Homo sapiens: one gene and its partners. Changing the gene in region 1 together with any one later gene gives a genetic interaction. Each region holds a gene or a part of one and is shown in the gene's direction. Other genes may lie near its edges. The genes, in order: CDH1, MAX, UBE2T, C16orf96, DDI2, CHD4 and DRC2.

Region 1 (4,343 bases):
ACCTGGCAAGATGCAGAAACTGGCATCCTCACAGCTGTTCATACCCTTGTCCCCTGGTATCTTCTTAGAAGTAGATTCGCTTTGGCAGGGGGACAGGGTGACTTTCCCAGATTGTAGTGGACCATGTGGGATTTGCAGTGGCTCTTCCTGCTCATGTAAGAAATCAAGAAACTGTGCTGTGTGTGGTGGCTCACGCCTGTAATCCCAGCACTTAGGGACGCTGAGGCAGGCAGATCACGAGGTCAGGAGTTTGAGTCTCTGCTAAAAATACAAAAATTAGCCAGGCATGGTGGCACGTGCCTGTAATCTCAGCTACTAGGGAGGCTGAGGCAGGAGAATTGCTTGAACCTGGGAGGTGGAGGTTGCAGTGAGCCAAGATCGTGCCATTGCACTCCAGCTCTGGGTGACAGAGCAAGACTCAGTCTCCAGGGGTGGGCGGGGAAAAGGAGGCCGGGCGTGGTGGCTCACGCCTGTAATCATAGCACTTTGGGAGGCCAAGGCGGGCAGATCACAAGGTCAAGAGATCGAGATCATCCTGACCAACATGGTGAAACCCCATCTCTACTAAAAATACAAAAATTAGCTGGGCATGGTGGTGTGCACCTATAGTCCCAGCTACTAGGGAGGCTGAGGCAGGAGAATCGCTTGAACCTAGGAGAGGGAGGTTGCAGTGAGCCAGGATCGTGCCACTGCACTCCAGCCCGGCAACAGAGTGAGACTTCGTCTCAAAAAAAGGAAATCAAGAAGCTAAGGCTTCTTGGTGGCTCATGGTGGCTCATGCCTGCAATCCCAGCACTTTGGGAGGCCGAGGCGGGCAGATCACCTGAGGTCGGGAGTTTGGGACCAGCCTGGCCAACATGGTGAAAACCTGTCTCTACCAAAAATACAAAAATTAACTGGGCGTGGTGGTGCACACTTGTAATCCCTGCTGCTTGGGAGGCTGAAGCAGGAGAATCGCTTGAGCCTGGAAGACAGAGGTTGTAGTGAGCCAAGATCGTGCTACTGCACCCTGGCCTGGGCAACAGAGTGAGACTCTGTCTGAAAAAAAAAAGAAATCAAGAAGCTGTTACACAGGATCCTGAAATTGAAAAAGAAGTACTATCTGCTTTAATAGGCTCTTTCCCAGAAACATTCTCCTTCCCTCAGCTCTTTCCATTTTGCGGTGACAGAGAAAATGATTTACTGGTCTCTGCTCTTGTGCTGGTTTATTTTAGAAGTGGGGCAGATATGGTTGTTTTTGAAAAATGTCCTAGAAACTTGAAAACTAGCCAAGCGCAGTAGTGTATGGCGGTGGGCCCAACTACTTGGGAGGCTGAGGTGGGAGAATCACTTGAGCCCAGGGGGTTGAAGCTGCACTCAGCTATGATCATGCCACTGTACTCCAACCTGGGCAATAGAATGAGACTCCATCTCTTAAAAAAAAAAAAAAAAAAAGATGGCCGGGTGCAGTTGCTGATGTCTGTAATCCCAACACTTTGGGAGGCCAAGGCGGGTGGATCACCTGAGGTCAGGAGTTCGAGACCAGCCTGGCCAACATGGTGAAACGTCGTCTCTACTAAAAATACAAAAAATTAGCCAGGTGTGGTGGCGGGCTCCTGTAATCCCAGCTACTAGGGAGGCTGAGGCAGGAGAATTGCTTGAACCCAGGAGGTGGAGGTTGCAGTGAGCCATTGCATTCCAGCCTGGGTGACAAGAGCAAAAATTCTGTCTCAGAAAAAAATAAAATAAGGAAAGAAACTTGAAAACTAAGAATTTGAGTGAATTGCTTGTTGAAGTGACTGGATCCCTAGAATAGCCCCAGCTTTGCCTTCCTCTTGAGTAGGTGAGCAGATTTGAGAAGCCATGGTAAGTAATTGTGGTTTCTGCCATTGAAAGTCATGGCAGAAACCACAGTTACTTTTGCACCAACCTAATATATTACCAAAAGCAACAGTTAAGGATTTAATTTTATTTTTACTAACACAAAATGTTTCGTTTTGTTTTTAACTTCATTGTTTCTGCTCTCTAGGGCTTGGATTTTGAGGCCAAGCAGCAGTACATTCTACACGTAGCAGTGACGAATGTGGTACCTTTTGAGGTCTCTCTCACCACCTCCACAGCCACCGTCACCGTGGATGTGCTGGATGTGAATGAAGCCCCCATCTTTGTGCCTCCTGAAAAGAGAGTGGAAGTGTCCGAGGACTTTGGCGTGGGCCAGGAAATCACATCCTACACTGCCCAGGAGCCAGACACATTTATGGAACAGAAAATAACGTAAGTGTGAGGATTTTTCAACTGACTTGCAGCAACTGGTTATTTTATATCATTTTATATGTAAATCAATAATATGTACTTCATGGCATTTTGTCATTTGTCTGTACAAGACCATTCTCTTAATTTATTTTTTATTCCCTTTATCTGTGCTCCTTTCACCTGTTCCCTTCCCTTCACAGACAGCCGTTCTTGGTCTGATGTGCTGCCTCTCTTTGAGCTCTTGTAGTATGGTAGAAATGCAATTTTACTTTGCATACATACTATTGTGTTTTTTTGAGTTTGGAGTCTCACTTTGTCGCCCAGGCTAGCGTGCAGTGGCGTGATCTCTGCCTACTGCAGCCTCTGTCTCTTGGGTTCAAGCAATTTTCATGCCTCAGCCTTCCATGTAGCCAGGATTACAGGTGCCTGCCACCACGCCCGGCTAATTTTTGTATTTTTAGTAGAGACAAGGCTTCACCACATTGGCCAGGCTGGTCTCGAACTTCTGACCTCAAGTGATCTGCCTGCCTCCTAAAGTGCTGGGATTACAGGCGTGAGCCACCGCACCCAGCCCATAGTATTGTGTTCTAAGTAGCTTACTATCAGTATTTCTCCTTTCAAACTTGAAGGTACCTCTATAATGTAAATCACACAGATGCTGAGAACTGAGAACCCACATGCCAACCAACCAACTACAACACTTGCTTTAAAATACTCTCATTTTGGGTTGGGCATAGCAGCTCATGCCTGTAATCCCAAAACTTAGGGAGGCCTAGGCAGGTGGATCACTTTGAGGCCAGGTGTTGAAGACCAGTCTGGCCAACATGGTGAAACCCCTGCCTCCACTAAAAACACAAGAAATTAGCTGGGCATGGTGGTACACACCTGTAATCCCAGCTACTCGGGAGGCTGAGGCACGAGAATCACTTGAACCCAAAAAGCTGAGGTTGCAGTGAGCTGAGATCGAGTCACTGCACTCCAGCCTGGGTGACAGAGTGAGACTCCATCTCAAAAACAAAAAACAAAAAAACTCTCATTTTCTATGTGTAGCCAATGGACTCCTCATAATCTAGAGATATTTCTACATGCTCCAAACTGTAAGGCCTGGCAAGATGGGTTTTAATCGAAGTTTAAAAGAATGATGAAAAGTCAAAGACAATAATGTAGGATTAGGTTCAGTGATGAAACCCTGGATTGTACAGTTTCCAGGCTGGGTTGAAAGCTTGCAGTAGTGAAATAGATAGTTCAAAGCATCTCCTGGGGCAGATTCAGGGACCAGGTCTTTAGTGTCTGTTTCCAGAGGCCCTTACGCCTGGAACAATGACCACTTGATGTAATTCATTGCTTTGCACTTCCAAAGAAGTGAGGCCAAGCCCACAGTTTCTTAGAGCCCTTTCCTCCTTTGATTTCTTAGTTTCTCTTTCAGAGCCTTTCCATGACCCTAGTAAATAACTGAGCAGTAGATCTCTGTTAGCCTCCCTGTACCTCCCATTAAATGGCAATAGTGCAGTCCACCCACAGGTCAACAGGGCAACCTGCATCTCCAGATGTTCATGACAGGAGAGGAGGTGGCATGTTGCCACCATTTAGGAACTACTGTATTGTTTGGGGGAGCTGGTCTGCAGGAGTCTGCTTTTAAAAATAAATAAGGATTATAGTAATCATTGCTTCAGCAAGAATCATCCACAGATGCCAAATCCATTGGGTGAAAATTAGTTGCTGAACAAGATATTCTCAAATTATCTACCTGCAGATTATAGGTTAATCATGCAGTGAAAAAAGGCACCTTTGCTGTGAAGAAATCTGGTGGCCTTTCCCTTATCCAAGTGATCAAAGTTATCAATAGAAGCACAGACAGACATCATGTGCCTCCCAGTGTCCTGCACTAGGGAGGCCACAGCATCACCTCTGTCCTGTTCTTGCCCCCACCGACCCCTGAAATGGATTACCTGAATCTAAATTTTGAGGAATAATCAGACAAACCCAAGTTAAGGGGCATGCTACAAAACAACGGCCAGCACATTTCAAAAATGTCAGTGACAGAAAAGAAAGACCTAAGGAAGAGCCATGCCAACGAAAGGCCATATTGGATCCTGAATCCAGAAGGGTGC
Region 2 (4,343 bases), on another chromosome or scaffold:
ATTTCCATAAAATCCGGGGATGTAGTTGTTCCAAAAGTCTTAAAAATTATCCCTGGGTAATAGTCATTAAAGATAATTTGTTTTATTTTATTTATCCTTGAAGTATTCTCATATACTTATGCATATATTTGAAAATTGAATTCCTTTTTCACATTTACTTTTATCCTTCATGTTTGGGGCCTAGTCTGTTGAAAACTTTTTTTTTCCCTGCAAGTCTCCAGTTGTAAAATCTGTGCTAGGGCTTGATCAGAGCTGGAGGGTAAGGATCGTTTAGCCTTCCTTTGCAGAATTATCCTTTGAATTGAAATTATACTGACTTCCCAGTAAGAGAAAGTTGTGTTTTTTTTGTTTGTTTGTTTGTTTGTTTGTTTTTTTGGTGAAATTTTGGCTCGCAGTTCTTGAAAGCTTTCTGCTTTTCAAAATTTTCATCCATATGATCGTTGATATAAATTTGTTATTAAATTATTATAATGTTTCTGCTTTCCTGGAATGCTAATCTCATTGTTTTGTCTAGATGTTTTTAGTTTGCTGTTAAGGTGCCTAGGATTTTTCCTTTTGATTTTGGGGGTAGGCAAAGGAAGTTGGTTTGACACTTTGTTTTTAATTTAACACATCTATTTGTTGATATTTCTAAATATTACTCTGCACAATGTAATTACAACAGCATGGAGAGAAAAAGCAGATATGTTATAAACAAATTTTATAGTATATCAAACAACTATTGTGACTGTGTAGGGTAAAAAGGATTCCATTTTTTCCCCTCTGTGAATGCATCTGCTTACTTCTCAATATTTAATATGGATAATAAATATATTTTTTAAAATTTAAGAGGGAGCTATTCTTAAGTTTTGCCTTAGAAAAAAGGTTTAAAAAAAGATGTGGACTGTGAACAACCAAATACTTAGGTATTCAGGACTACAGAAGATGTTGAAAAAGTTATTTGAAAAGGGTTCTGTGGATCCTAATATAAAAACATTCATGTATGTTTTATAATGTCACTACAATATATAGGCCTTACTACATGAGAAATGTAAGATACTGAGAAGAGAGTTAGGAAGTTAGGCTAACTCTAACAGAAAGTGAAACTGATTTGGCAAATATTTTTTTCTATTGCTTCAGTACAAACGGAAAACAGCTTCTCCAATGGCCAGTAAGCTTTGTTAAAGGAAGTAACCCCAAAGAGTATTCTTACTACTAAATTCAGTACATCGCAAAATCCCACTGATGTTATTTTTATTATATTTTGGAGGGAAGAGGTTGCATTTTAAAGATAAATTTGTGGGACAGGTATATTATATTGCAAGGGCTTCCTTTTGCTTTATTTCTGTTTGGGAAATTTCTTTAGGAAAGAGTGTAAGTATACAGGAAATGTATGGGTTAGTGTGTTGGTCAGGAAATGCAATTTTTTTTCCAGTGACCATCCTTGATGGCACCTGACTGAGTTGCAGTTGCAGTATACTTGTGAGGGGTTTGAAAACAGATTTGTGCAATTCCACTTCTGGACCTTTCTGGCATGAAATATTTTTAACTTCTCAGAGCTCTTTGCTTCTTTAGGAATATTCAGAAGAGAACGAGCTTGGTAGCCTCCGAGATTGGAATTCACTCAGGAAACTACTGTCTGTTTTACCTGCAGTCAGTTGCATGGCAAAAGTGCTGCACAATGCATGTACTTTTTCTCTGCTTAGAGTGTTGACAGTGATGCTTACAGTGATAACAAATGCCAGAGTTAGTTCCTAAATGTGCCTGTGTTAGGGTAAAAGTTGTTCTTATGTCTAAAAGAATTTTTCCAAGATGCCAGTAACGGTGAAATAGTTGGTCAAAGAATTCAGCTTGGTTTTTAATTAAAATTTCCTGACCAAGGCATCCTTCTCTGAAATGGCTATAGTATGAGGCCCTGTTTGGATTATAGCATTTGCCAGTTATTTTAGGCACCAAAAGAAAAAAGTTTGAAAACAAATACATACATTAGATAATGTTGGAAATGTATACCAGGCAATCAGCTACAAGCAGGACAGGTATTGGAAAATTGAAATCCATGTCTTTCTCTTAGGGAGCTTGGTGAGTTTATCCCATCCTACCTGCCTATTATTTTATGTTATAATTTTTGGGTTGATTAAAATGAATATTTTAAGTTGCTTAGAAATTGAGCTTTATCCTATCTTGTTCTTATCTATCAGAAGTAAGAAATAGATCTTTTCGGATGAGATTTTTGGGTCTGTGTATTCTCGTGTCCTTAGTCTCTAATAAGAATAGCTTGATAAGAATCATAAGCAACACAAGCTTCCCTCTAAAATACAACCTTCACATTTTGTAAAGGTAGTAAATATTGAGTGGGCAACTAATTCCCTATATGCTGAGAATTTTCTGTATTAGAATTGAGATGGTTCCCCTTATAGGTGGGGTTAGCTGTCAGGTAGCCTGTAAGACATGGCATTGTTCTGGAGAACCTTGTGCATCCTGGAATAATGAAGCATTTATTTCCCCGTGCTATTTGCCTAGAACTTGGAGGAAATAAGATTACTGACTGATGTGATGCCTTGAACAAAGATGCAGTCTCTCTGCAGTAAGTTGGAAGGAAATAATTTTAAGAGATTTCCCTCAATTTTGAACAGACCTCCTTAGCCTAGATGACTTCTTGCCAACATAGCAACTTCTTGGCTAACAAAATAATGTTTGTCTTCAACATCTAACAACACTTAAGATACACGTGCTTGGTAGTGTCAAAGATGGACAAATTGTAGGTGAAGATTTTTATTCTGTCTACCAGTGTGGAAAGTTGGGTAGAAATATAACTGAGAGGCTGAATAAAAACTTTGGCAGAGATGTCAAAGCTGGAAGTGATTTGGTGCGGGAGTTTCTGTTGAGCATCTGTGGACCACTGCATAGCCCCTTAGTATTTCTGTTAGGGATGCCCTGGAGGAAGGGTTTTCTGGCAGACATCCAGACGTACAAATCCAGCGTACTAGAAGAGTGGGCAGCATCCAGCCACTGTAACCATAGGATGTGTAGGGGAGATGTTTGGGAGCCTGCTGTACAGTCCAAGAATACCTCTGTGGTCTCCTAGAATAGGGCCTAATTAATTCCACAAGGGGGTTTTCCGTACCATTTGTTTTCATTACTGAACATCATTCTCAGTACAGGCTCATCTGAGTAGAGTTTTATTTGTTCAAGACAATTGTTTGGGCTTGTTTTTTAAAACCAGTTTTGCATTTGGGGGAGGATATTAGATGCCTTACACTGGGAGTCTTCACCCAGTTTTTCTTCTTCAACTCTGAAATCTTGGCCCTCTCAAAAAGGGTTGCCAGCAAGCAAAGACAGTTAACAAGGCAGTGATAAAGCCTGCAAACTAGTCCTCCAATGGGGGTGGGGATGAGGCGCGGGCAGTGTTATTGGTCTGGGTGGATCTGTGGTTTGGAAATGTTTCCCACAGAGAATTCTCAGCCTTGTGTAAAGGTTTTTCTGTTTTTCATGTGCTCTTTCAAAACATTAGTGATAACATTTAATTCACAGTTGCCTGGAATTAGGCTTGTTAGTTCTGCATGTTTTTAACTTGTTCTTTCAAATCAAGCTTGGGGAAGAGAAAAATACATCCTTGCCATTGTCTCTGAGAGATTTAAAATTGACTCCACTAGTAGCTCAGGGATGGACATGGCAGCAGGGATTGGTGTAAGATTCCACTCTTCTGCTAGTTAAATTGGGCCTGGAACCACTACAGAAATTCCATCCACTACTTTGAGAACAACAGTCCCCAGCCCAGGCTTTCTACCAGGCAGTGGACTGCTGCCTTTCCTTGTTGAGCCAACTTCTCAAACTTGGCTGGCTCCCCAGATGAGAAGCCAAGATTTCTGCTCATGATCTACAGCCAAGTTCACTTACAATCCTCCAACCGAGAGACTTGTCCATTTGAGTCCTTTCAGAGCTCAGTGAATGGGAGGGGGTAGTGCATTGTGGGGATGATTTTGGTGTTAGATTATACTTAGCTCCACCCCTTTAGTGCAGGTCCACGTGAAACCAAGTGCAACTTCATTCTAGCTGTTTGAGATTTGCAGGGCTCTCCCAGAAAGAAAACAGACAATTAGAATTTTATTTGTATCAACAAGAGGGATTGTGGGTAATTCTGGTGCACAGCTCTTAGCTGGGAGGAGGGCCAAGAATCAGGGTGATTTAGTAGACAGGAGTATCTTGGGCTGCTCTGGAGACCAAAGATGGGCAATTAATTTGCATGTAAATAAACCACCTTAGGTAGTATATAGCAAACAGGAGCCGCAGACACATGCCAAATATTGTCTCTTGGCCTTTAAGCTCCTTAGGTATAGTCGCAGCCCAACTTATCTTTATGTAGA
Region 3 (4,343 bases), on another chromosome or scaffold:
ACAAAACACTTCCAGCAAAAAATCTTTATTTTTAAGAAAAAAGTATTTTTTCTCATTTTCTATTTTTGTCATAAATTTTTATTCTTTCCAGTGGAACCAAAACTTGAACTTCCTTTTGGTTGATACATGCCCAGCAAGACTGATCAAAGAAAAGATGGCACAGATAAACAGTGTTAGAAATGAAAATGGAAACATAACCATAGATAACTACAGATTAAAAAGATAAAACATTATACAAATAAATTGAAAATTGCATGTAATAGATAAATTTGTGGAAAAATTTAACTTGCCAAAATTGATGCAAGAATAAATAACTTGAATAAGATTCAAGTAAATTGGATTTGTAGGTTAAAATTTTCTCAAAATGAAAACACCAGGATCAGATGGAGTTATTCCAGACAACCTAGTAACAAATTATCTCTTGGACTAATCCACAATATGTTAAAAAAAAAAAAAAAAAAAAAAAGGAGGCAATACTCCCTAACTCATTTTAGGAGGCTAGCATAACCTTGATAGCTAATAAAGACAAAATTAGAAAGGACAGTTATAGGCCAGTCTTACTGATTAGCATAGTGTTAAAAGCTTTCCCTTTAAGGTTAGAAATCTGACAAGAATGCCAACTATCAGCTTTTCTTTCTTTCTTTTTTCTTTTTTTTTTTTGGCTGTTGTTTAGACAGGGTCTCACTCTGCCTCCCAGGCTGGAGTGCAGTGGCACAATCATGGCTCACTACAGCCTCAGTCTCCCCGGGCTCAGGTCATCCTCCCACCTTAGCCTCCTGAGTAGCTGGGATTACAGGCTCATGCCAGCATGCTTGGCCCAGCTATCAGCTTTTTCATTTAACATTGTACTAGAAGTTACTGTCAGAATAGAAGGCAGGAAAAGAATTAGAAGGGAAGAAATAAACTTGATTATATGTGGATGACATGATTGGCAGTGTGGAATTACCATTCCCAGACTGCTCCCCACCCCAAATAGATTCATCATTAGCATTACTAAGGCTTTGGTTAAAAATCAGTTAGATTGGCTGGGCGAGGTGGCTCATGCCTGTAATCCCAGCACTTTGAGAGGCTGAGATGGGTGGATTACCTGAGGTCCGTGGTTCGAGACCAGCCTCACTAACATGGAGAAACCCTGTCTTTACTAAAAAAATACAATATTACCTGGGCCTAATGGTGCATGCCTGTAACGCCAGCTACTCAGGAGGCTGAGACAGGAGAATCGCTTGAACCCAGGAGGTGGAGATTGCGGTGAGCCAAGAGCACACCATTGCACTCCAGCCTGGGCAACAAGAGCAAAACTCCATCTCAAAAAAATAAAAAAAAATCAATTAGATTTACATGTATCAGTAAGAAATGGGTAGAAAATAGTGTTTTTGAAAAGATAGCAAAAATATAAATACTTAGAAATCAGTCTAACAAAAATTAGATAAAGCTTTATAGAGAAAATTATAAAACCTTTGGAAAGCATCAAAAAAAAGACTGAAACAGCGTGTTCATGGATCTTAGGATTCAATATCATAAAGATATCAGTTATCTCCAAATTGATCTATAGCATCAATAAAATTACAATCCAAACCACAGAACCCTGTTATGATTTGGATTATAATTTCAGATATACATATTTATGTATATATTTATGGACTTATGAACTGATTCTCAAATTTATATGGAAGAGCAAAGAGTCAAGAATAATCAAGTCATTCCTGAAGAAAAAGACCAGGTGGATAAGCTATAGTAAAACATCACATTGTACACCTTAAATATATACAATTTGTATTTGCCAGTTATACCTCAGTAAAGCTGGGAAAAAATTTAAATAATAAAAAATGAATAAGCTATAGTAATTCAAACAGTGGAGTATTGTCTCAGAAATAATCCACTTGACCAGTGGAACAAATTCAAGAGTCCCAAAACAAATCCACACATATAGAAATTTAATTTATAGTAATATCAGCAGGGAAAGGATGGACTGATTCAGTAAATGATGTTAGAACAATTGACTATTCATATGGGGAAAAACTTTAAATTGGACCCCCACCTCACTCACTATACATAAAATTCAATTCCTAGTGGATTCAATATTTAAATTTGAATAGCAAAATTATAAAATATTTGAAGGCTATGTAGGAATATCTCTACATTTGGGGGTAAGGAAAAATTTAATACACAAAGTATAAATGTAAAGAAAGAGATTTTAAGATTGATTATGTTAAGAGTATGTGTTTATTGAAAGACACCATGTACAACATGGAAAGATAAGCACAAACTGGGGGATATTTGTAACACATTAAAGGATTGGTGTTGGCTGGGCGCGGTGGCTCACGCCTGTAATCCTAGCACTTTGGGAGGCTGAGGTGGGTGGATCACGAGGTCAGGAGTTCAAGACCAGCCTGGCCAAGATGGTGAAACCCCATCTCTACTAAAAATACAAAAAGTAGCCGGGCGTGGTGGCGGGCGTCTGTAATGCCAGCTGCTCGGGAGGCTGAGGCAGAGAATTGCTTGAACCCGGAAGGCTGAGGTTGCAGTGAGCCGAGATCGCACCACTGCACTCCAGCCTGGGCAACAGACCGAGACTCCGTCTAAAAAACAAAAGGGATTAGTGTCCTTTGCTTGGTTAGTAAAGAGAGAACTAGAGTTGAGAAGAGTGTTGGGTGAATATGTGTGTAGGTGTTGGTTTTAGGTGAGAGAGACTTTGAGCATATTTGAACATTGAGGGTAAGAAAGATGGAATAATTGATGGAATGGTATCCCTGAAGATTGGGAGAAGGTGGAATCCATAGCACATGGAGAGAAACTCGGACATTTAACATTTGTTTGTACCTGAGAATGTTGACTATCTCTACCATTCTTGCTCTCACAAAGCATATGTAGACTTCCTCACAACAGCAAATATTTGTCAAATCCCTTACTATGACAGGCATGCTAAGGCTACAATAGTAAGCAAAATCAGACCCAGGCCTGGCCTCATGAGTTTATAATTTATCAGTGGAAACACCCATTATTTAAAACCTTTAGTGTTTTTATTTTTTGTAGAACTTTTTGCATTTTTAGTTCTTTATTTTAAAAATATATTTGCTTGTATAGATAAACGTTCACAAGAAGGGAGTGGAAAAACTCAGATTCCCTTGTCAGAATAGAGATTAATAAGAGGAATCTTGGACTGGCGTGGTGGCACACACCTGTACTTCCAGCTACATAGGCGGCTGAGATGGGAGGATCACTTAAGCCCAGCAGGTGGAGATTGCAGTGAGCTGAGATTGTGCCACTGCACTCCAGCCTGGGTGACAGAGCAAGACCCTGCCTCTAAAAAAAAAAAAAAAAAAAAAAAAAAAAGCTGGGTGCATTGGCTCACGCCTGTAATCCCAGCACTTTGGGAGGCCAAGGCAGGCGGATCACCTGAGGTCAGGCATTTGAGACCAGCCTGGCCAACATGGCGAAACCCTGTCTCTACTAAAAATACTAAAATGAGCTGGGCATGGTGGTGCACGCCTGTAATCCCAGCTACTCTGGAGGCTGAGGCATGAGAATTGCTCAAACCCAGAAGGTGGAAATTGCAGTGAGCTGAGATGGTGTCACTGCCCTCCAGTCTGGGTGACAGAGTGAAACTGTGTCTCAAAACAAAAAAGAGGACTCTGTCCCCCACCCTCACTACATTGAAGCTGTTTGCTGAAAACTTCATAGTCATTATTGCTGATGATTTTATGGTCACCTCTTTTCTCCTCCAGTGCATCCCAGGCAGCTCTTAGTGTGGAGCAGTGAACTGTGTGTGGTTCCTTCTACTTGGGGATCATGCAGAGAGCTTCACGTCTGAAGAGAGAGCTGCACATGTTAGCCACAGAGCCACCCCCAGGCATCACATGTTGGCAAGATAAAGACCAAATGGATGACCTGCGAGCTCGTAGGTATCAAATCATGTATATGATGAAAGTCATGACCCTATTGAAGATTGTGCTGAAATAAAACATTTTGTGTATTCTTCTAAAGTAAGGAGCAGTTATAAGGTCAGAGTGCCCTACCATCTTTCTACCCAAATTTGTTTACATTTATAAAAGGTTTGCTTGACATTTCTTGCTTCTTTGACTTTTTATTATACCTTATGCTGATTTATAGCCAAGATTTAAAGCAGTGAAGCAGTGTTTAGATCAAAGATAACCATCTCAAATATCTGTGAGGCCAGATGGGAAACATACATGATTAGAATACTGCGGTCCAAACAAAACAAATCTATAGGTTGTATTTGGTCTTGTGGCCAGCATTTTGCAACTTCTGCTTTAGATTTTCTATATGTCCTTTGTTTGACACCATTAACTTTTTGAGTACATTAGCATTGTGGTGTGTTGCAT
Region 4 (4,343 bases), about 64 Mb from region 1:
GGGCCTGGTGTCTCACGCCTGTAATCCCAGCACTTTGGGAAGCCAAAGCAGGCGGATCACCTGAGGTCAGGAGTTCGAGACCAGCCTGGCCAACATGGTAAAACCCCCGTCTCCACTAAAAATACAAAAATTAGCTGGGTGTGGTTGCAGGCACCCGTAACCCCAGCTACTCAGGAGGCTGAGGCACGAGAATCACTTGAACCCAGGAGGTGGAGATTGTAGTGAGCCAAGATTGCGCCACTGCACTCCAGCCTGGGTGACAGAGCAAGACTCCGTCTCAAAAAAAAAAAAAAAAAAAAGGTGGGGTCGGTGGGGCGGCATGGTGGTTCACGCCTGTAATCTCAGCATTTTGGGAGGCTGAGGTGGGCAGATCACAAGGTCAGGAGATCGAGACCATCCTCGCTAACACGGTGAAACCCCATCTCTACTAAAAATACAAAAAATTAGCTGGATGTGGTGGCAGGTACCTGTAGTCCCAGTTACTCAGGAGGCTGAGGCAGGAGAATGGTGTGAACCTGGGAAGTGGAGCTTGCAGTGAGCCGAGATCACACCACTGCACTCCAGCCTGGGCAACAGAGTGAGACTCTGTCTCAAAAAAAAAAAAAAAAGAAAAAAGAAAAGAAAAACAATGCCTTATTGGCCTGTCTCTTGGAGGTGTTTTTGTTGTTGTTGTTTTGTTTTGTATTCTTTTTGAGACGGAGTCTCTCTCTGTCACCCAGGCTGGAGTGCAGTGGCACGATCTCAGCTCACTGCAACCTCTGCCTCCCGGGTTCAAGTGATTTTCCTGCCTCAGCCTCCTGAGTAGCTGGGATTACAGGTGCAAGCCACCACGCCTAGCTAATTTTTGTGTTTTTAGTGGAGGTGGGGGCTTCACCACATTGGTCAGGCTGGTCCCGAACTCCTGAACTCATGATCCACCCGCCTCAGCATCCCAAAGTGCTGGGATTACAGGCATGAGCCACTGTGCCCGGCCCTCTTGGAGATTCTTAATGTGCTTTTGCTCATTCAAGGCTCTGGGAAGTCCTGCCGTACAGAAACCTGTTGAAATGTTTTTTATTTATTTATTTATTTACTTATTTTTGAGACAAAGTCTCACTCTGTTGCCCAGGCTGGAGTGCAGTGGCGCCATCTCAGCTCACTGCAACCTCTGCCTCCTGGATTCAAGTGATTCTCCTGCCTCAGCTTCCTGATAGCTGGGATTACAGGCGCATGCCATCAGGCCCAGCTAATTTTTGTATTTTTAGTAGAGACGGTGTTTCACCATGTTGGCCAGGCTGCTGTCGAACTCCTGACCTCAAGTTATCCACCCACCTTGACCTCTCAAAGTGCTGGGGTTACAGGCATGAGACACTGTGCCCGGCCTGACATGCTTTCAAGCCCAGCATTTCCCAAACTTGTTTGCCCATGGAACCCTTTCCCACTCCTTGGGAAACACTGGATTTGGAACCCGTTCTTCCTTCTCAAGCTCTTAGTCACCTAGAGCCACGGGAAAAGGCAGGGGTGGGACAGAACCTGGACCCCCAGTCCACAGACTCAGTTCCTTTGACAGGTACACCCAGAAAGAATGGACATCTTTGCTGAAGACTTCAAAATACAGAACTGGAAGATGGTTGCACTGCAGCGGGAAGTGGTGAGGGCCACCATCCCTGTCTTCCCCCACTCCCCCTGGGACCCCCCAACCTCCCGGGTCCTGGGTGCTGAGGGTAGGGAGGTGCAAGGAGGAGAACACAGCCTGGAAAGGTTTCTTTGCAGGTGTGGGGGACACTGCCCCCTCCAGGCTCACAGCCCTCATTTTCTACCCCCACCTTGCAGGCTTCTCTCCAGAATAAGTTTAAAACCATCCCCAAAACCGAGGACATGGTGCTCTGGAGTGGCCTTCATGATGCCATGTTCACCTCAGTGAGTGAGGAAGGAAGGGGAGGTTAGCAGGAAGCTGGGGAGCAGGCGGGTGGCTGACTGAGAGTGGGAGGCGGGGCTGGAAGCCAGCAGAGCCCCTCTGCCCCCTCTTCTGCAGGAAATTGGTTCATCACCACTGGACCTGTGGCAGTCTGTAGAGCAGCTCCCAGAGGCTGCCCTGGCCCAGACCACCAAGTACCTTGAAGCTACTCGTGCCATCCAGGTCTCCGAGCCCGTCCAAAACCCCCAGCTACTGCAGACTGTCTGGCATTATGAGGTCCCAGAGCTCCTCCCGGAGGGCTCATCTGCCCAAGCAGTTTCACTCAGCAGAGCCCAGGAGCCAGCGCAGCCTCCGGCCCTCACGCCTGAGTCTGCACCTGGGTGCACAACTGAATTTGCACCTGGGCCTGCACCTGGGACTGAACCTGTGCCAGGACTGGAGCTGGGGCTGGAGCTGGAGCCTGTGCCTGCCCTGGGGCCTGTCCCAGGGCCCAGTGTGACACCTGGGTCCTTGCCAGCACCTTGGCCTGTGCTTGGACCTGTGCCTGCCCCAGGTGCCCAGCCTCCACCACTGGGAGACTGGCCTGCACTCCCAAGACGCTGGCCTCTTCCCCAAGGCTGGCCCAGGGTGGGCTCTTGGCCTCTGTGGGACTTAGGTGTCCTGCGGCCAACTCAGCCCCAACCCTCCAGGGCCCCACCACCAGCCACTGAGTTTGGCTCATTGTGGCCTCGACCACTCCAGCCATATCAGTCTCGCCAGGGAGAAGCCCTCCAGCTCGCAGCTGTCCAAGTAAAGGGGGAGGAAAATGATGTCCCCAGCCTAAGGGGCCTTCGGGAGAGGGCCCGCAAGGATGGGGCCCCCAAGGATAGAACTCGCAAGGATGGGGTCCCCAAAGATAGAGGTGGCAAGGATGTGGACCCCAAGGATAGAGCTCACAAGGATGATGTCCCCAAAGATAGAGGTGGCAAGGATGTGGACCCCAAGGATAGAGCTCACAAGGATGATGTCCCCAAAGATAGAGGTGGCAAAGATGGGGACCCCAAGGATAGAGTTGGCAAGGATGGGGCCCCCAAGGAAGCACAGCCTAAGGCTCCCCAGTCTGCCCTTCACCGGCTGAAAACCACCGCTGCCATCGCCGCCGCTGCCGCCGCAGCCTACGCCGCTGCCACATCCTCCGCTGCCCAGGCAGCCAAAGTTGCTGCCAAGTTTGTCAAGGATGCCCCAGCCACCAAAATGGCCGCCATTGCAACAGACACGGCTGCAGCTGGGCCCCTAGGGGTCTTTGCAGATGTCCTGGGTGCAGGGCCTTCCCGGGGAGCCACAGAATCCCAGATCTTGGGCGATGATTCCGAAATCTACGAAATCCTCTCTCCCTCCTACTCTGCTGCCAGCATCGGTCCCGATCCAGCCCTGTCCCAGGCCATGGTGGCTACCAAGCAGGCCATGAGCCCTGAAGACAAGAAGAGGGCTGTCAAGTATTCCATGAGCCACATAGCCCAGATACCTGTCAAACACGACTCTCTGAAGGAAGAATTTGCCCAGCTGTCCTGTAACCTGAACCAGCGCTTGAGTTATCTAGGTAGGCCTGGTCTGGCCCTGGGAAGGGCACAAGGGAGTGGGGCTCTCCCTGCAGCCTTTGAGAAGTGTGTCCTGTCCTTCACTGGGCTCCACCAACAAAATCTGCATTCCACCATTAGCCATTCTTTCCTTTGGCTTAAGCATTTGGCTCTTAACGAGTCTATTCTTTTCTGTTGAATGTACAATGAGGTCTTATCTTAGGGCAGGGAGGCTGTTAGGGTCTAAAGTTGGCACGAGGAAAATGGCATGCCAAAATTACTCTCAAAAACTCTTGTGGCCAGGCGTGGTGGCTCCCACCTGTAATCCCAGCACTTTGGGAGGCTGAGGTGGGCGGATCACCTGAGACCGCAAGTTCAAGATGAGCCTGACCAACATGGAGAAACCCCGTCTCTACTAAAAATACAAAATTTGCTGGGCGTGGTGGTGTATGCCTGTAATCCCAGCTACTCGGGAGGCTGTGGCAGGAGAATCGCTTGAACCCAGGAGGCAGAGGTTGCGGTGAGCCAAGATCATGCCATTGCGCTCCAGCCTGGGCAACAAGAACGAAACTCTGTCTCAAAAACAACAACAACAAAAAAAACTCCTTTGTGATAGCCCATAAAACAGTATTGTATTGGCTAAGCATGGTGACTCATGCCTGTAATCTTAGCACTTTGGGAGGCCAAGGCAGGAAGACTGCTTGAACTGGAAGTTCGAGACCACCCTGGGTAACATCAAGACCTCATCTCTAAAAAAATTTTTAAACACTAGCTGTGTGCGGTGGCTCACGCCTATAATCCTAGCACTTTGGGAGGCCAAGGCAGGCAGATACGGAGACCATCCTGGCTGACACGGTGAAACCCCGTCTCTACTAAAAATACAAAAAAAT
Region 5 (4,343 bases), on another chromosome or scaffold:
TCTGTGTATCATGATTCATTAATTATAACAGGAAATTGGAGAATAATTGAATATCTTATCGTAGAGTGGTATGTTTTTATTTGTGTGCTTAGGATTTGACATTTTAATAGGGCGAGCAGGAGGGTTTAAATCTTGGGCTACTTTGTGCATCACAGGCTGCTGCATGGATTGCCATGAATCCTTATTACATTGGATGGGATATTGTGGGGGAGTTACAATGCAAGTGAAACGTGGTGCTACCCAGATTCTTAAAAGAACAGAACAACCATAATTCCATTTGCAGATGTCAAGAACTGTGAGGGAAAAATAATGGCCTAAACACTGGAATTTGCTAGAGTTTGGGTTTGCTAGCATCTCACTGATAACACCTCAACCCTTAATGACTAATGGTGGAATTAAGTTCAGGAATGGATTCATTGCCAGCAGCTTATTTCCTTTCTAGACTCTTCTGCCAGGAAGTTCTTCAAACGCTCAGTGTGAGCTGTGATCTGAGTGAAATACTAAGTGTGATAACCTTGTCACTGGTTAATCTTGGTGCTTGGAACGGTCAGTCTATTTGGAGAGTGTCCTTTGTGGCAGTGGAAATAGTAATTACAGTTTCTGACTTAAGTGGCCTTGGTAGAGTTTTCCATCCTTTTCTTTCCTCAGGAGTTTCTTTTTTAAGCAAAATTCATCTTATTTGTGTTTACCATGTCAAGTTAGAGTGGGGCATAATATATAGATGTATTTATTGTGGCCTTTTTTTATATAAGGACTAGCCCTTGGAAATCATTGTCCTGTGGGCCCCACTGTGCAATAATCCTACTGGATAGGTTTTAGATAATTCTTTCCTGGCAAACTGCTCTTTTGGGTACCTAGCAGGAATCTGAAGTCTTGGTTTTATTGAAAAGAATTTTGAGATTCATAATTTCTGATTCTAGATTATAGTTTGTAACATGTTTGAAACAGAAGCTTCGAAAGAGTGATTTCTCAACTTAGTGTTAAATGATTTTGTCTGAAGTCTGACTCTTTGTAAGCTTGTTTGTTTCATCAAATTTTAAGTCATTGAGCACAATCAAAATGGAGGCTCATATCTCAGGAGTTTTTGAAATTTTAATTTAGGGGCACTTAGAGACATTTTTTTCTACCCCATCCAACTTCTTTCTTTCCTTTTGCTATGATGTTTGTATGTATGTTATAAGACTTTAGTGATGGGATGGCGTGTCACGTAGATTCATCATGATCCTTTATGTAGTTAGGAAATGGTTGACAGAAGGAATTGTAGTTTACTGCTTTTCAGAGGGCGTGAAGAACAACAGGTCAGCCAGGTTGTCTTTAAGATGTTCTTTTAGACAGCTGCACATTGTAGACCCTTTCACCTGCCCTACACCAAAGATGTACGATGCACTAGGAAACTGCTCATAGGATTTCTGTCAGCTGACTTAAAGCTGTGATTGTAATTAAATAGTTGGTGCTATGATTGATGCAAAATCTAGTAGCAATGCAATGGGACCCTGTATTTGCTTTATGGGTGGTGGTTTGGGAATGTATTCTAAGCTTATAAATCTTTGGAACCACGGGGTGGGAAGGGTGGGGGAACTTACTGATGACAATAGACTCCCTCCTAAAGGGCCTTCCATGTAAGCAGAACGAACCTTGGCACACAATTCAGTGTGGATATTTGGGAAACAGTTCCAAGTGGAATATATAATATCAGTCGGGAAAAGATTTCATTAGGATAGCTTTTTGTGTATGTATATGTATATTTATTTTTAGGAATAGATCTATAGTTGTACATGAATTCCTGTTAGGAATACTCTGAATGAGCTTAACCCACTTGCCAAATATCCTTGTCCCTTCCATCATTTTATTTTTGAGATGGGGTCTTGCAGTGTTGCCCAGGCTGGACTCAAACTCTGGGGCTTAATCATCCTTCTGAGTAGCTGGGACTACATAAAGGCCAAAGTATAATTGCTTTTGATTTTTAAAATCTTCTTGCCCATCATTTTTATAAAAATAAAGCTGTTTGTCCAACACGGTGAAACCTCATCTCTACTAAAAATACAAAAAATTAGCTGGGCATGGTGGCACACGCCTGTAATCCCAGCTACTTGGGAGACTGAGGCAGGAGAATTGCTTGAACCTGGGAGATGGGGGTTGCAGTGAGCCTAGATCACGCCACTGCACTCCAGTGTGGGCGGCAGAGTGAGACTCTGTCTCACCCAAAAAAAAAAAAAAAAAGCTATTGACACTGTTAATATTTTGGATGACTTAAATTTAGCAGCTCTAGAATGCAAAGGGTATATTAAGGAGCATTACAATAGTGAACCTTCATCGTCAGCTTTTATTCAATTAAGAGCTCCAGAAATGCAGAAATTATGGGTTAACTTCTAAGAATACCATCAAATCCCTGTGAATTCTGGTTGCCAACAGTAATAACCAGTAATGGGCACCTTTACCGGACAGCTCCTTTACCATAACCAGTAGTGGGCAGTTCTGCGGTCAGCACTTAACTACAAGGGCGGTCTCTGTTTCTTCACCAGAGAGAGAAGATTTTCCTGTGTAATTTGTGCCATTTCCCTGAAGTTGGTTCTTGAGCGGAAAGATGTGCTTGGTAACCAGACAGCAGCTTTACATAGGTTATAGATTTTGCTCATTGATGCTGTTAAGAATTATTTCCACTCATACCTGTTCAGGGCTCCAGACAGCCAATAGCCTTCATCCCACAGTTTGGGCTTCAGCTATTAACACATAAAGATAACCAGTTGCAGCTAGGCTCGGTGGCTCACACCTGTAATCCCAGCACTTTGGGAGGCCAAGGCGGGTGGATCACCTGAGGGCAGGAGTTTGAGACAGGCCTGGCCAACATGGTGAAACTCCATCTCTACTAAAAATACAAAAATTAGCCGGGTGTGGTGGCCCATGCCTGTAATTCCAGCTACTCGGGAGGCTGAGGCAGGAGAATCACTTAAACCTGGGAGGCGGAGGTTGTGGTGAGCAGAGATCACGCCATTGCACTCCAGCCTGGGCAACAAGAGCAAAACTCTGTCTCAAAAAAAAAAAAAAAAAAGGTAACCAGTTGCTTGGCAAAGGAAGCTGGAGAGATGGCGAGTGCATGTGTTAAAACTCTTCTGCCTTGCAGCCCACATCTTCTAGAGCTCCCTGTCTTCATATGTACTAAAGGGAGACACAACCCTATGTGTTTTTTCCCAAAGCATGTCTCTAGCAAGAGGGTACATAGAAATGGAACATGAGGCTTTTTGTCACTGATTTTATGATAACCAGTTAATGTGGAATCTGCTGGTTGTCTTACTACAGCTTTCTATCTCCGGTGAAAGCCATAAAAATTTAGGTTAACTTTTAAGCTCATGTCTATATATATGTGTGTAAGCTAGCATATACATATGGTGATTGACAAGTATAGTTAATTTTATATGGATTTAAAAGCAAGCAATTTTTATATCTACAGACGTACTCTTCACTTATGGTGGCTTTTATCCCGCCACATATATAAATATATATATATATAGCAAACAGCCTTGCAAATCATCGGCCAGAAAAGCTGCAGGGCGTTGCAATGGCCTTTTCCTACCTGTTTGCCACCTGTGGTGAGGGTGAGCAGGATGATTGAACTGCTGCATATTTCAAACCTGTTATCACTGGCAGTGTGTCCCAAGAGAAGCTGACCAGATTATGCATTCTACTGTTCTCTAGCACAAGTACTCACCAAAAAGCCAAATTTCCCCTTTGGAGTTGGTGACTTAGTGTAGTCTGTGGCTGACCTAGAAAGACACAGAGTTATCAAGAGTTTCCCTTCCTAGAAGATGAATGTTACCTTTTGTGTTAGGAGGTAGAGAAAATAAAAATAGCTTTTTTTTCCCTAGAATTGCTAATTACTCTTAACAACAAATTAAATTCAAAGCCTGTCCTTGAGAACTGGAAATGTAAAATCATGGTTCAAGTTTTATACCTTAGTGATTCCTCAGTAGGTGTTACTAGGAGTTCACTGAATGAACTTAGGAGTGAACCTTCGATGTGCTTGATTTTCTTTTGTGCCTTAGTTTCTCTGAATAGCAGAGGCATCAAATTTTGGTGGGGAATGAGAGGAGTATTAGGGGAAAGTTTGAAAATAGCTCTCCTGGAGATGGAGGGCACACAGAGTGGTCCTCAGGCTCACCTTGACTGAGTTGATTCACAGTTATCCTGCATCAGACCATTAGATTTCTTTAGTGCTATGATTATAATAGGGATTTTTGAATCACCAAAAACAGTTTTTAGATGTTTATGTTCTTTGTTTTACTATCAATGTTGTGCTGGTTAAGGGAGAGAAAAGTTCAAGAAGATCTTACATATTTGAAAGGAAA
Region 6 (4,343 bases), on another chromosome or scaffold:
TTGGGAATCTGAATGTGGGGAAGCAAGCTTAGGTGGAGAAGATTTTATTTTCCCCATCTTTGGTCTTGTGGTATATATTTGGATATATCCTGATTTTAGGTCCCAATGCTCGGAGGAAGCCCAAGGGCAGCCCTCGTGTACCTGATGCCAAGAAGCCTAAACCCAAGAAAGTAGCTCCCCTGAAAATCAAGCTGGGAGGTTTTGGTTCCAAGCGTAAGAGATCCTCGGTGAGAGCCCAGCCCATCGCTTTAGGGAGGGTGCCATGTCTAATAGAAAGGATGTGACCTTCTATCAGAACCTGTCCTTCATAGTAGGCACGTAAGAATGTGGGGCGTTTCCCACAGAACAAGATGAGACTAGGCTCCCTGTATAACGGTGCTTGCTGGGATTCTGGTGTCCCCAGTGAGAGAGTACTCCCCTCTCTGCCACTCTGTCCTTCCCCTTGGCTTGAACGTCTAACCTTATTCTTTTTCATCCTGCCAGAGTGAGGATGATGACTTAGATGTGGAATCTGACTTCGATGATGCCAGTATCAATAGCTATTCTGTTTCTGATGGTTCCACCAGCCGTAGTAGCCGCAGCCGCAAGAAACTCCGAACCACTAAAAAGAAAAAGAAAGGTGTGTTTCTCTTCTGTATATTTGTGATGGGATGAGGTGGGAGTGATTGGGGAAGAATCTCCCTAAGGAGATAGGGGTCGGGGGGTGGGGGGAGGTAGTTTTTTTCCAATAACTGGGCTTTCCCTCTTCCTTGCCCAGGCGAGGAGGAGGTGACTGCTGTGGATGGTTATGAGACAGACCACCAGGACTATTGCGAGGTGTGCCAGCAAGGCGGTGAGATCATCCTGTGTGATACCTGTCCCCGTGCTTACCACATGGTCTGCCTGGATCCCGACATGGAGAAGGCTCCCGAGGGCAAGTGGAGCTGCCCACACTGCGTGAGTGTCTGGCCATTGTGGCCCCTTGGAACCCATGAGAAGAAGGGTGGGACAGTAAAGCTCTTCGGGGCCTGGATGGAAATGGAAATGCTGGTGCTGCGGGTTGTGAGCTTTGGGAAGCATTCAAAGGAATGATGGGCACTGGCTTCAGACTGCGGTGGGCGGGTGGGGGTAATAATCTGAATCTGTGGTCCTTTACTGCAGGAGAAGGAAGGCATCCAGTGGGAAGCTAAAGAGGACAATTCGGAGGGTGAGGAGATCCTGGAAGAGGTTGGGGGAGACCTCGAAGAGGAGGATGACCACCATATGGAATTCTGTCGGGTCTGCAAGGATGGTGGGGAACTGCTCTGCTGTGATACCTGTCCTTCTTCCTACCACATCCACTGCCTGAATCCCCCACTTCCAGAGATCCCCAACGGTGAATGGCTCTGTCCCCGTTGTACGGTGAGTGACTGATCTCAGCCGGGGCAAAAAATGGGAAAGTGTAGTCTTTTCTATGTAGGCTATTGTGAGGCTGGGGTGCAGGAGAGGAACTATGAGCTTTTCAGCCCTGAGAAAGGTATTCTCCTTCATCCTATAGTGTTGGGATACTTTTGTCCTGGGAAAATATAGGACTAACTTCAAACTGAGGAGTTGATGTTTTGCCAGCTCTCTTAAGAGGAGATGAAGCAATGTTCTTCTAGCTGAGAACATTTGTCCCTGTGTTGACACCCTGCCTCAGGGTCTTGGTAGCTTACAATGTTTTCAATTTTTTTGTTAAAAAAATTTTTTTTTTTGGAGACAGGGTCTCATTCTGTCATCCGGGCTAGAGTGCAGTGGTGCAGTCATAGCTCATTGCAGCCTCCAACTCTTGGGCTCAAGTGATCCTCCTATCTCAACCTCTTGCTGAGTAGCTAGGAGTACTGGTGCATGCCACCACATCCAGCTAATTAAAAAAAAAAAATCTCTGTTGAGACAGGGTCTCACTATGTTGCCCAGGCTGGTCTTGAATTCCTGGTCTGAAACCATTCTGCTCCCTTGTCCTCATTAAGTGCTGGCATTACAGGTGTTTACCACCATGCCAGCCAGTTTAGAATGTTTAATAGGGCCACTTACTGCTTTAGATTGCTTAAGGGAGGAATTCTGTGCTCTAAGTCTGTTGATTTCCTGATTGTTCTGGCTTATTGTTAAAGTCTAACTACTGGCTCTGTTAAGCAGATAGGAGTGATGGTGGCACGCAAATCCTGGACGATGTCCAGAAATGGAGAGGGAATTCTATTACAGGTTGAGCACCCTAATCCAAAAATGTGAAATCCAAAATACTTCTGGTCCCAAGCATTTCACATGAGGGGTCCTCAACCTGTATTTTCTCCCTGGAGGAGTCCTGGGATTAGATTTTATTTGAAATGAGATCTTTTTTTATTTTTTTGAGATGGAGTCTTGCTCTGTCCCCCAGGCTGGAGTGCAGTGGGGCAATCTTGGCTCACTGCAAGCTCTGCCTCCCAGGTTCAAGTGATTCTCCTGCCTCAGACTCCCAAGTAGCTGGGACTACAGGCGCATGCCACCACGCCCAGCTAATTTTTGTATTTTTAGTAGAGACGGGGTTTCACCATGTTAGCTAGGATGGTCTCGATCTCTTGACCTCGTGATCTGCCCGCCTCGGCCTCCCAAGGTGCTGGGATTTCAGGCATGAGCCACTGCTCCAGGTCTGAAATGAGATCTGAATCGTCCTTTGATGAAGTTGAGACTGTGGGCTGTCCCTTCTCCTCCCATGGTTATGATTTGAGATTAAGTTGTCTCTTTTTCTCTCAGTGTCCAGCTCTGAAGGGCAAAGTGCAGAAGATCCTAATCTGGAAGTGGGGTCAGCCACCATCTCCCACACCAGTGCCTCGGCCTCCAGATGCTGATCCCAACACGCCCTCCCCAAAGCCCTTGGAGGGGCGGCCAGAGCGGCAGTTCTTTGTGAAATGGCAAGGCATGTCTTACTGGCACTGCTCCTGGGTTTCTGAACTGCAGGTAAGTTTAGGATAGTCTGGAGATGTAGGGGCTACGATGAAGAGGATAGTGACAAAAGAGCCTTGTGGATAGAAGGAATGAACACAGCTTCTTGGTGGCTGATTTTCTCTTTCCGCTCAAAGCTGGAGCTGCACTGTCAGGTGATGTTCCGAAACTATCAGCGGAAGAATGATATGGATGAGCCACCTTCTGGGGACTTTGGTGGTGATGAAGAGAAAAGCCGAAAGCGAAAGAACAAGGACCCTAAATTTGCAGAGATGGAGGAACGCTTCTATCGCTATGGGATAAAACCCGAGTGGATGATGATCCACCGAATCCTCAACCACAGGTACCAGCTGAGCACACGGGAGACGGGCAGTCTCCGTGGGAGAGTCCTGCTAAAGAGATTGGGAAAATGGCTGTCACCAGTAACTTAGACTTGGAAGACACTGGTTTTTTTTGTTTGTTTTTTGTTTTTGAGACAGAGTCTCACTCTGTGCCCAGGCTGGAGTGCAGTGGCGTGATCTCGGCTCACTGCAACCTCTGCCTCCCAGATTCAAGTGATTATCCTGCCTCAGCCTCCTGAGAAGCTGGGACTACAGGCGCAAGCCACCATGCCCAGCTAATTTTTTGTATTTTTAGTAGAGACAGGGTTTTCATTCTGCTGGCCAGGCTGGTCTTGAACTCCTGACCTCAGGTGATCTGCCTGCCTTGGCCTCCCTAAGTGCTAGGATTAACAGGCGTGAGCCACCACGCTCAGCCTTATATATTTATTTTGAGACAAATTTTAGCTGTGTTGCCCAGGCTTGAGTGCAGTGTCGTGATCACTGCTCATAGCTGTCCCAAACTCCTGGGCTCAAGCAATCTGTCTGCTTCAGCTTCCCAAAGTGTTAGGATTACAGGCGTGAGCTACTGCGCCTGACACTTCATGTTATTATCTTTATTTATTTATTTTATTATTATTGTTTTTTTTTGAGACAGACTTGTCACCCAGGCTGGAGTGCAGTGGCGTGATCTTGGCTCACTGCAAGCTCTGCCTCCTGGGTTCACGCCATTTTCCTGCCTCAGCCTCCCGAGTAGCTGGGACTACAGGCCATCGCCACCATGCCTGGCTAATTTTTTTTTTTTTGTATTTTTAGTAGAGACGGGATTTCACTGTGTTAGCCAGGATGGTCTTGATCGCCTGACCTTGTGATCCGCTCACCTCCTCCTTCCAAAGTGCTGGGATTACAGGCGTGAGCCGCCGCACTCGGCCTATTTATTTATTTATTTATTATATTTTTTGAGACAGAGTCTTGCTCTGTGGCCCAGCCTGGAGTGCAGTGGTATGATCTAAGCTCACTGCAACCTCCGCCTCTCAGGCTCAAGTGATTCTCTGCCTCAGCCTCCAGAGTAGCTGGGATTACAGGCGTGTGCCACCACGCCTGCCTAAT
Region 7 (4,343 bases), on another chromosome or scaffold:
TCTTGTTCTGTCACCCAGGCTGGAGTGTAGTGGCATGATCACAGCTCACTGCAACTTTGAACTCCTGGGCTTAAGCAATCCTCCTGCCCAGGCCTTGTGAGTAGCTGGGATTACGGCCTGGGTAATTTTTATGGGTTTTTTTGTTTGTTTGTTTGTTTTTGTAGAGATGGGGGGGTCTCATTATGTTGCCCAGGCTAGTCTTGAGCTCCCAGGCTCATGTAATCCTCCCACCTTGGCTACCCAAAGTGTTGGGATTACAAATGCGAGCCACCTTGCTCAGCCCTTGCCATCACTCTTGCTTTACACAAGAGTGAGGGGGACAGCCAGCATTCTTAAAGTCAAAGAATTGGCATTAGGAACAAAGAAAAAACTGCCAGCTGAATATATTTTTATTTTCTCACAGAGATGCTATTCAGCTGGAATGGTAACTCTCTCTTTCTGGCCTAGTCTTTAGCTAAAGACCTGTCCGAAGCCGAGGAGCAGTACGCCCATGCCCTGCGCAGCCACTTGCACAATGTTGACCAGCTCTTGGCCCTGCAGAGGCACCGGCTCAGTCTCCTGGAGGAAAGTTACAACATGGAGCTGGAAGCCCTAACCAAGGAGTTTGAGACAGAAAGGTATGGGGGCCTAAGAGAAGATGGGGAATTGAATCCAGGGGAGTGCCCAGAGTCCGTGTCAAGGAGTTGCCTGTAAGCAAGTGGCTAGTATCTTGGAGCATCCCACATTGATTATCACGGGACCCCCAGCAGAGAATATCTTGGTTCCTTTTAAACAAACTCGGGCTTAAGTTTGCAGCTCTAGCTTCCCTTTACTCACGTCAGGTCCCTGTCTGTGTACCTTCACCACCCACTTTCTTCTTTTTTTTTCTTTCACTATTTTTTTCTTTATTGTTTTATTTTTTTATTTTGTTTTGTTTTTTCAAGACGGAGTGTCGCTCTGTTGTCCAGGCTGACATGCAGTGGCACGATCTCAGCTCACTGCAACCTCTGCCTCCCGGGTTCAAGCAATTTTCCTGCCTCAGTGTCCCCAGTAGCTGGGATTACAGGTGCGTGCCACCACACCTGGCTATGTTATTGTTTTACTTTTTTAAATAACTTTTTTTTCTTCTTTTTAAATTTAACTCCTCAAATTCCTTTTACCAACTACCCACTTTCTTTCTTTTTTTTTTTTTTTTATTGATCATTCTTGGGTGTTTCTCACAGAGGGGGATTTGGCAGGGTCACAGGACAATAGTGGAGGGAAGGTCAGCAGATAAACAAGTGAACAAAGGTCTCTGGTTTTCCTAGGCAGAGGACCCTGCGGCCTTCCACAGCGTTTGTGTCCCTGGGTACTTGAGATTAGGGAGTGGTGATGACTCTTAATGAGCATGCTGCCTTCAAGCATCTGTTTAACAAAGCACATCTTGCACCGCCCTTAATCCACTTAACTCTGAGTGGACACAGCACATGTTTCAGAGAGCACAGGGTTGGGGGTAAGGTCACAGATCAACAGGATCCCAAGGCAGAAGAATTTTTCTTAGTACAGAACAAAATGAAAAGTCTCCCATGTCTACTTCTTTCTACACAGACACGGCAACCATCCGATTTCTCAATCTTTTCCCCACCTTTCCCCCCTTTCTATTCCGCAAAGCCGCCATTGTCATCCTGGCCCGTTCTCAATGAGCTGTTGGGCACACCTCCCAGACGGGGTGGTGGCCGGGCAGAGGGGCTCCTCACTTCCCAGTAGGGGCGGCCGGGCAGAGGGGCTCCTCACTTCCCAGTAGGGGCGGCCGGGCAGAGGCACCCCTCACCTCCCGGATGGGGCGGCTGGCCGGGCGGGGGGCTGACCCCCCCACCTCCCTCCCGGACGGGGTGGCTGCCGGGCGGAGAGGCTCCTCACTTCTCAGACGGGGCAGCTGCCGGGCGGAGGGTCTCCTCACTTCTCAGACGGGGCGGCTGGGCAGAGACGCTCCTCACCTCCCAGACGGGGTGGCGGCCGGGCAGAGGCGCTCCTCACATCCCAGACAGGGCGGCGGGGCAGAGGCACTCCCCACATCCCAGACGATGGGCGGCCGGGCAGAGACGCTCCTCACTTCCTAGATGTGATGGCGGCCGGGAAGAGGCGCTCCTCACTTCCCAGATGGGATGGCGGCCAGGCAGAGACGCTCCTCACTTTCCAGACTGGGCAGCCAGGCAGAGGGGCTCCTCACATCCCAGACGATGGGCGGCCAGGCAGAGACGCTCCTCACTTCCCAGACGGGGTGGCGGCCGGGCAGAGGCTGCAATCTCGGCACTTCGGGAGGCCAAGGCAGGCGGCTGGGAGGTGGAGGTTGTAGCGAGCCGAGATCACGCCACTGCACTCCAGCCTGGGCGCCATTGAGCACTGAGTGAACCAGACTCCGTCTGCAATCCCGGCACCTCGGGAGGCCGAGGCTGGCGGATCACTCGCGGTTAGGAGCTGGAGACCAGCCCGGCCAACACAGCGAAACCCCGTCTCCACCAAAAAAATACGAAAACCAGTCAGGCGTGGAGGCGCGCGCCTGCAATCGCAGGCACTCGGCAGGCTGAGGCAGGAGAATCAGGCAGGGAGGTTGCAGTGAGCCGAGATGGCAGCAGTATAGTCCAGCTTCGGCTCGGCATGAGAGGGAGACCGTGGAAAGAGAGGGAGAGGGAGACCATGGGGAGAGGGAGACCATGGGGAGAGGGAGAGGGAGAGGGAGAGGGACCAACTACCCACTTTCAACTATCAAAATCCTACCCATTTGGCAGGGAACAGGGATGGGAGAGAGACTTCTCACTGTAACCTTTTGTACTTTTTTTGTATCACATGAATGTATTACCCATTCAGAAATCAAAATAAAATAACCTTACTCATTCTTTCTAGCCCTAAAAAGAGTAAAGCCTTCCCTCTCTCTTTTCTCCATCAGTACCTAAGAGTTTGTACCATTCACATAGATTACATACTGCTTTGAATTGTCATTATTGGTCAATATCCTGTATCCCTCAGAGCAGGGACAGTGTCTTGTCTCCTACAGGAAGACAATTATTGACCAACATGAGAAAGAGATTCACTATCTGCAAGATATCTTCATGGCCATGGAGCAGAACTATATAGATTCTGAGTATGAAAGCAAGCTGGAGTTCCAGAGCATGTGGAATGATCTCAAAAACATGGTACGGAGGGAGAGTAGATAGGCAAGAAGTGGGAGGAGGTGATAGAAAAATGCTCAAGGAGGCTGGGCACAGTGGCTCACACCTGTAATCCCAGCACCTTGGTAGGCCAAGGCAGGAGGATCACTTGAGACTGGGAGTTCAAGACTAGCCTGGGCAACATAGGGAGTCCCCCCCATCTCTACCGGCCCCCCCAAAAAAGAAAGAAAATAGCCAGGCGTGGTAGTGTGTGCCTATGGTCCAAGCTACTTAAGAGGCTGAGGTAGGATGATCGCTTGAGCCCAGAAGATGGAGGCTGTAGTGAACTGTGATAGCAACACTGCCCTCCAGCCTGGGTGACAGAGCGAGACCCTGTCTCAAAAAAATTAAAAAAAGAAAAAAAGAAAAATGCTCAAGGCTACTAGAAGTAGAAGAGACCCCTTTAGCCAACACAGTCAATAAAACATCTATTGCCCCCTGTAGGTATCCCTAATGCTTTTTGTAATTTTGTGAAAATTGGTTGGGAGGGAGGACCATTCTAAATTGTCAAGGGAATGCATTTTAGAGCTAAAAAGCACCAAGGAGATCATCTGGCTTCACCCCTGTGATTTTCAGATGAAGAAAGTAAGGCACAAGTAAGTAAAATGACCTGCCAAAGTCATGCTGCTGGTTTGTGGTAGAATCAGGAGAATCTAGGTCTCCTGCCCCTTGATCCAAAGTGCTTTCCACTGTCCTCGAGGTTGCAATCTTAGCCAGCCCACAGACCTAGGTTTGGGTATGGAGTTCTTTGTTTTTATTTACCCCACAGTGTTTTATACAATTTTTTGAATAAGCATCCTACACTTAAAAATTGGAGATTTCACAAAAACATCCAAATTTTCAGCTTCCCTTGAAAAATTTAAAGATCTGGCAACACTGGGCCACATTTCCAAATGGCAAGGCTCACGTGGAGCTCAGTGACTGCCCCTCCTCCTCCCAAATGCAGCATTTCCTCTCCAGTTCACCACAGGCCCCACCCGGCCCACAAAACATATTTATATCATCTGCCTGGTCTTGTGTAGGCATTTTCATGGGAGACCTCTGTACTAAACTATGCTACAAACAGTTCAAGAGGGTGGGATTGCTGGTAGAAGTGAAAGGGCACTAATAAGGTAATTCCAAACATTTGCTATTTTGGGGTCACTTGCTAGAATTTAGAAGAGAAGCACTTTCTAA

The links.
Region 2: changes in CDH1 (region 1) and MAX together harm fitness more than expected from each alone (negative genetic interaction), as found in Homo sapiens cells (one large-scale study listed by BioGRID).
Region 3: changes in CDH1 (region 1) and UBE2T together harm fitness more than expected from each alone (negative genetic interaction), as found in Homo sapiens cells (one large-scale study listed by BioGRID).
Region 4: changes in CDH1 (region 1) and C16orf96 together harm fitness more than expected from each alone (negative genetic interaction), as found in Homo sapiens cells (one large-scale study listed by BioGRID).
Region 5: changes in CDH1 (region 1) and DDI2 together harm fitness more than expected from each alone (negative genetic interaction), as found in Homo sapiens cells (one large-scale study listed by BioGRID).
Region 6: changes in CDH1 (region 1) and CHD4 together harm fitness more than expected from each alone (negative genetic interaction), as found in Homo sapiens cells (one large-scale study listed by BioGRID).
Region 7: changes in CDH1 (region 1) and DRC2 together harm fitness more than expected from each alone (negative genetic interaction), as found in Homo sapiens cells (one large-scale study listed by BioGRID).

Annotation. Positions count from the first base shown.
Region 1 is NC_000016.10:68,813,507-68,817,849, forward strand, and holds part of CDH1 (cadherin-1 isoform 1 preproprotein), read left to right. Parts: exon of another isoform or gene 1-56; intron 57-2,008; coding exon 2,009-2,253; intron 2,254-4,343.
Region 2 is NC_000014.9:65,095,564-65,099,906, reverse strand, and holds part of MAX (protein max), read left to right. Parts: intron 1-4,343. UniProt on the Homo sapiens protein: Transcription regulator. Forms a sequence-specific DNA-binding protein complex with MYC or MAD which recognizes the core sequence 5'-CAC[GA]TG-3'. The MYC:MAX complex is a transcriptional activator, whereas the MAD:MAX complex is a repressor.
Region 3 is NC_000001.11:202,335,201-202,339,543, reverse strand, and holds part of UBE2T (ubiquitin-conjugating enzyme E2 T), read left to right. Parts: intron 1-3,725; 5' UTR 3,726-3,789; coding exon 3,790-3,898; coding exon of another isoform or gene 3,899-3,902; intron 3,903-4,343. UniProt on the Homo sapiens protein: Accepts ubiquitin from the E1 complex and catalyzes its covalent attachment to other proteins. Catalyzes monoubiquitination. Involved in mitomycin-C (MMC)-induced DNA repair.
Region 4 is NC_000016.10:4,573,160-4,577,502, forward strand, and holds part of C16orf96 (uncharacterized protein C16orf96), read left to right. Parts: intron 1-1,549; coding exon 1,550-1,630; intron 1,631-1,812; coding exon 1,813-1,899; intron 1,900-2,014; coding exon 2,015-3,476; intron 3,477-4,343.
Region 5 is NC_000001.11:15,662,232-15,666,574, forward strand, and holds part of DDI2 (protein DDI1 homolog 2), read left to right. Parts: 3' UTR 1-4,343. UniProt on the Homo sapiens protein: Aspartic protease that mediates the cleavage of NFE2L1/NRF1 at 'Leu-104', thereby promoting release of NFE2L1/NRF1 from the endoplasmic reticulum membrane.
Region 6 is NC_000012.12:6,596,810-6,601,152, reverse strand, and holds part of CHD4 (chromodomain-helicase-DNA-binding protein 4), read left to right. Parts: intron 1-99; coding exon 100-227; intron 228-483; coding exon 484-619; intron 620-757; coding exon 758-936; intron 937-1,140; coding exon 1,141-1,380; intron 1,381-2,727; coding exon 2,728-2,931; intron 2,932-3,053; coding exon 3,054-3,259; intron 3,260-4,343. UniProt on the Homo sapiens protein: ATP-dependent chromatin-remodeling factor that binds and distorts nucleosomal DNA. Acts as a component of the histone deacetylase NuRD complex which participates in the remodeling of chromatin.
Region 7 is NC_000012.12:48,913,957-48,918,299, forward strand, and holds part of DRC2 (dynein regulatory complex subunit 2), read left to right. Parts: intron 1-447; coding exon 448-617; intron 618-3,013; coding exon 3,014-3,152; intron 3,153-4,318; coding exon 4,319-4,343.